Linked DNA regions of Homo sapiens: region 2 is linked to region 1. Evidence: fine-mapped expression QTL. A gene starts in region 1. The other region holds a variant in brackets. All regions are shown on one strand. Distances are from middle to middle. Region 1 holds the start of VDAC1 (voltage dependent anion channel 1). Region 2 has its middle 22 kb from the start of VDAC1.

The links. PIP is the estimated chance that this variant, and not a neighbour inherited with it, causes the effect.
Region 2: its variant is the best candidate, but not a certain one, in a credible set for the expression of VDAC1 in lung (TOPMed, PIP 0.70).

The regions. Positions count from the first base shown.
Region 1 is chr5:134,003,260-134,006,161 of GRCh38, reverse strand. It overlaps VDAC1 (voltage dependent anion channel 1), which reads left to right and starts at 1,187. Exons shown (of 9, transcript NM_003374.3): 1 at 1,187-1,267. RefSeq lists enhancers at 344-413, 454-513, 584-703, 2,354-2,403, 2,414-2,463 and silencers at 874-923, 964-1,023, 1,084-2,123.
Region 2 is chr5:134,025,200-134,028,101 of GRCh38, reverse strand. It overlaps a transcript of VDAC1 not described here. Among named protein-coding and RNA genes, the nearest start is that of VDAC1, 22 kb to the right of the region's middle. The variant C/G (reference allele first, on the strand shown) is at 1,162.

The DNA of each region.
Region 1 (2,902 bases):
TCCTTACATTCCCAGTCACCCCTCCCCCAGCCCCTACACAGGGCCTAGGTAACCTGTCTGCACCCCACTCCCACTCTGTATCAGCTGCCCTCTTCCTCAGCACCCTATCCCACTGGAGCACCTTTTCCAACTCCAGTCGCCACTTTTAATCTGCCGCCTTTTCCCAGCAGCCAGTCCTGATTGCCTCCTCCGTAGCCCCAGTTGCCCACTGCTTTAGATAGTGTCGCAGCTGGCTGTGAGGAGTGTCCTGATTCTGTAACCCGGCACCTCCTCCACAGGGCCCTAGACGCCTCAAGCCTTCCAGGACGTTTGTTGATCAAAGGCGAAGGATGTGTAGAATCTTCGTCCATCTACGAATTAATTCTCGAAACCTGCTTCGAGTGGGCCTCGCGCGTAACACAGGGGACACTCAGTGGTGAACGAGACCACTCGCTTAGGCCTAGCAGCGAGGTGACCGTTCACTCAACACACACTAACTGGGTCCCGCAGGACACGCCCCGGCTGGTCGCGGGGGTTACCCGGGGTGCCCTCAGTCGGCCGGCCGGCCATAACCGGCGTGATCTCCTCGCGCCGAGAGACCCAGCAGGGACCTCGCAAAACCCAATCCACGTTTTGTTTTATTTTGTCTTTTTGCCTCTCAAATGCATGGAAATTGGCTGCTAGTAGCTTTGCTACAGGAGAAAATCGCTAATCTGTAGTGCAAAATCGGCGCACAGGGGTTTTCTCTGAGATTGTCTAGACGCCGCGCGGGCGGGTCGGAGGCGCCAGACACATTGTATCCGGAGCGCGGAGCTCGGGAGCAACAGTCGCCGCCTCTACTCTGTATCTGCGCCGCCCCAGGCGCCCAGTGTCCGCGCTGGGCCTGGGACTGCCCTCGGGGGATGGGGCCCACGCGGGCTTTGATGGGGGGCCGGGGGCCACTTTGTCCACCCAGGCGAGGCTTGGGTCCAGCGCCGGCCACATCAACTCCCGGGGGATCTAGCAGCGCGGAGGCCAAGCAGGAGGCCCAGGAGCCCCGCGCGTCTTCCATTAGCGCAGGGACCTCCGGGCCACAGCTCAGAGAATCGGAAGGCCTCCTCCCCCTTCCCGAGCGCTGCCACTGGGGCCGAGGTTTCCAGCAAGAACCCGCGTGTCCCTGCGCACGCACACACGGTGCACACGTCAGTCCGGCGCCTCCCCGTGCCCCGACTCACGCAGGTCCTCCCGCGCGCCCGCAACACGCCCGCAGGCTCCTGTGTCTGCTGCCGGGGCAGCGGGGCCCGGAAGGGTAAGAACGCGGCTCGCTAGCGGGATGGGGACCCTGGCCCGGCCTGGACGCTGTCCCGGGCGGGGCCTGGGGGCGGAGCGCGCCGGGCCGGGCGCGCAGGAGGGGAGGCGGGTCCGCGCCGCCGCCGTCCGCGCCGCCCCGCCCTTGGCCCAGCCGCTCGCTCGGCTCCGCTCCCTGGCTCGGCTCCCTGCCTCCGCGTCGCAGCCCCCGCCGTAGCCGCCTCCGAGCCCGCCGCCACATCCTCTGAGGTAGGCGCAGCGGAAAAGGACCCCGGCTTCCTTGCGCCCTGGACGGCGGGGGCCAGGCCCCTGGGGAGCTGAGAGGGAGGCGCTGAGGGAGGAGCGGGCGAGGGGCCCCGGCAGCCCGGCCGCGGGGAGGGATCGCGAGCGGCCGGCGCGGGCCTGGCTGGTGAGCGGGCGGGCAGAGAAGGCCGCACAGGCGGGTGCCGAACAGGTCTGGGCTGGGGAGCGCGAGGCCGAGGGTCCAGAGACGCCTGCGGCTGGCGGCGAGAGGCGGCCCGGGCTTGCGGGCGGAAGTGCAAGGGCGGCCGCGTGGAGGCCCGGCGGGCCGCGCGTCTAGGTGACCTTCCCCGGCGGCGCCCTCTGGCCCTGGATCCCACCAGCGTGCATCCGGCGGGGACCCGTTCGCCGCCCACGCTCGCCGGACCAGGCCAGCGGGCGGGTGCCGGCCACGCTGCCGCCTCGGGGATGAGCTCACGTGACGACCGTGGCCCCGAGTCCCCAGGCCCACGCGCCCTGGCCGGCCCACGCCCGCAGAAGCTGGCGCCCGGCACCGCCCGCCTGTGCCAGAGCCTTCTAGAGCGGAACGCGCCGGCCGAGAGTCGACTTAGGCGGTAGAGGCCGGAGCTCGGGCCTGGGCTGAAGGTTTGGCCTCGGAAAAGGAGGCCCCACGGGGAAGGATGTGGCCTTCTTGGTCTTAGGAGTGATTACTGGTTCGGTCGTTCATTCATTCGCCAAATGCGGCGGTGCATTCTGGAAACTGTTTCGGAGCCTGACTTTGGATTAGAGGCCCGCAGTCTTAGTGGTTTGTACAAGGTCACACAGCTGGGAAGTCCCCATACCTTCGTTTTCTCATCTATAGGACGGGAGCAATTGTACCTCTCCTTCGATGAGTTTTGGGGAATAATAAAATGAATTAATTAGCATGAAACCTTTAGAACAGTGCCGGTGTGGAGAAGGGCTAAGTAGAAACCCTGACACCCTTGGGGCTTTTTGGGTGAATCCAGCCCATCCCCCGCAGACCATTTTGCTACACGTGGCGTTGTGGAAGGGGTTCAATAAATGTAGCTCCTGTTTTTAAACATTCTTTCACTATTATTGACAAGCATTTGTATACCAGGTATTGAGTAACTTTCAGCTTAATTTATGAAAAATCTTGTAAGTTTACAAATGGACATTGTCAAGCTGGAGCAGTAAGTTTGCATGTGGAGATCTTGAATGCAGGAGCAGACCCTGGTTTAGAGCCCGTTCCGCCCGGGGTCCCTGTCCCCTTGACTAGCCTCCCCTCTCCTGGGGAGATAGGGGAAAGGGCTCCTCTGTTGCCTAAACTTCTCCACTGAGGCAGGAGAAGGCCAGAGCAGACTACCGAGGGCCAGCCTTCATTCTGCCCACCCCA
Region 2 (2,902 bases), 22 kb before region 1:
TGGCTAAAATGCTATAGAAATACCTGGACATGGCCAGGCACAGTGGCTCATGCCTGTAATCTCAGCACTTTGGGAGGCCAAGGCAGGCAGATCACCTGAGGTCAGGAGTTTGAGAGCAGCCTGGTCAACATGGTGAAACCCTGTCTGTACTAAAAATACAAAAATTAGCAGGGTATGGTGGTGGGCGCCTGTAATCCCAGCTACTTGGGAGACTGAGGCAGGAGAATCGCTTGAACCTGAGAGGCGGAGGTTGCAGTGAGCCGAGATCACACCACTGCACTCCAGCCCGGGTGACAAGAGCGAGACTCCATCTCAAAAAAAAAAAAAAAAAAAAGTAGGCAAGATCTGGAAATGAATTTATTATACCAAAAATAACAGAGTTGCAGTCATGGTAGGTGGGCAGGGAGAAGATCACGGGTAATTGAAACAAATGAAAGTTAGTGTTGGTTGTGTTGTCTTTTCAATTAATGTGGGTGGCTCGTTCTTCAGACCTTAGCTCAGCAGTCACCTTTTCAGAGGCTTTTCCAATCTTCTTTGTTTAAGTTGGTCCCCTCTGTATTATTCTGTGTCTCAGTCCCTTTTTTGTCCCACCCTGGCACTTGTCACATTTGCAAATACTTTGTCTCTCCCTGCAGCCTGAGCTGCTGGAAGGAAGGCAGGGAGGGGCTGTCGCTCTCTTGTCCCCCATGTTCTCTCCAGGGCCCGGCACAGCGCCTGCACACCTTGCTGCTCGGGAACTGGTCATGAAGCAGTGGGTCTGAGGGAGACCTGCAGGTGAAGGAGGCAACGGGAGCCCCTCTCATGGCTGCTGATGGGGCGGGAGAGGGAGGAGGGCTGGGATCATCCTATCCAGGGGCCCCTGATCCAGGGACGTCTCAGCACTTTGCAGGCCATTGACTCTTGAGAATCTGATTGAATCAGTGTTTCTCAACCTCATCACTGTTGATATCCTGGGCTAGACATTTCTTTATAGGGCGGGGTTGGGGCCTGTCCTGTGTAAGATGCTTAGCATCACCCCTGGCCACCACCTGGCAGGTGCCAGTAGCAACACCTCTTCCCCAAAGCTGTGAAGTTAAAAACATCTCCAGATATTGTCAAATGCCCCTGGGAGTCCAGGGCCAGGTTGCCCTTGGAACTGGGTCAGAAAACCAGCCTAACGCT[C/G]TAGTGGGAATGAAATCTTTGCAGCTCAGGCTTAGAAGCATTTCTTCAGCAGCCTCAGTTTCCACATCTGTAAATGAGGGAATCTGATGCCAGTTTCACACAGGGGAAAATCTGTCTTGAGAATTTACCTTTGTGCAGATCCATGCAGGCTTGGGGTGACGGGCTTGGAGAGTGCTGCCACTTGTTGGTGAGTAGGTGGGAGTGCACCCATGGCTCATTAAGCTCCAGTCCACAGGGAGGCAACTTGCCTGCCAGGTGGAATGCAGCTGGCTTGGCTGGTAAAGCCCTGGCTCTAAGACTGGGCCAGGGAAGCCGCAAATAAGGCCAGCTAGGGTGTGTGGCAGCCAGGGGAGTCAGTGGGGATGGGACATTTTTCTATCATTTTGATCAAATGTTTAGTGTTTTTTTTTTTTTTTTTTTTTTTCTGAGACGGAGTCTCGCTCTGTCACCCAGGCTGGAGTGCAGTGGCGTGATCTTGGCTCACTGCAAGCTCCACCTCCCGGGTTCACGCCATTCTCCTGCCTCAGCCTCCCGAGTAGCTGAGACTACAGGCGCCCGCCACCACGCCTGGCTAATTTTTTGTATTTTCAGTAGAGACAGGGTTTCACCGTGTTAGACGGTTAGCCAGGATGGTCTTGATCTTCTGACCTCGTGATCTGCCCACCTCGGCCTCCCAAAGTGCTGGGATTACAGGCGTGAGCCACCACACCCAGCCATTTAGTGATGTTTAAAAAAAGTTGGGCCAACTTTGTTTATTTCCCTCTCCCTTTTCCTGCAGATGCAGAGATCCCTCTCCCTTAGAATCTCTCTAATTCAGGGCTTGGATGTTCGGATTTGCATGAGGGCAGGGAGTGTGAGGGTTGGAATCATGTCTAGCTGCTTGCCCGGCAATGACTCCCCGTGGCCAGACTGGTGGTGATTCCAGGCAACTCCCTCCCCCAGGCCAGGCTCGGTGGAAAAGGCAGAAGGTTGGCACTGCCCATGGCAATCCAAACTCACATCTTTCCCTAAACCTGCCCCTCCTCCAACCCAGTAGAGGCTGGGCCAGACCCTGAGTTCCACAGCTAGAAACATCACCTCCATTTGGGAGGCTGAGGTGGGAGGATCGCTTGAGGCCAGGAGTTCAAGACCAGCCTAGGTAAAATAGTGAGACCCTATTTCTATGAAAAAAAATGAAAAGAAACTTAGCTGGGCATGGTGGTGTGCACCTGTAGTCCCAGCTAGTCGGGAGGCTGAGGTGGGAGGATTGCTTGAGCCCAGGAGTTTGAGGTTGCAGTGAGCAGAGATTGCGCCACTGCACTCCAGCCTGGGTGACAGAGTGAGAACTCAAATAAAAATAAATAAATAAATAAGAGAGAGGGAGAGAGGGAAACATCACCTCCATCACTGAATCCTACTGGCTCTACTTCCTAAATAAGTCCAATTCATCCATTTCCCCCACCCCTACTGCTGCCCTCACCTCAATTTGAGCCTCTGATATGGTCTAGATATTTGTCCCTTCCGAATCTTATGTTGACGTGCGAGTCCCAGTGTTGGAGGTGGGGCCTGGTGGGAGGTGTTTGACTCATGGGGGTGAACCTCTTATGAATGATGAATGGCTTGGTGCCCTCCCTATGGTAAAGAGTTATCATGAGATCTGATTGCTTAAAAGAGACCACAACCTCCTCCCAACCCCATGCTCCCTCTTTCGCCATGTGACGTGCCTGGTCCCCCTTCACCTTCTGCCATGAGTGGAAGCTTC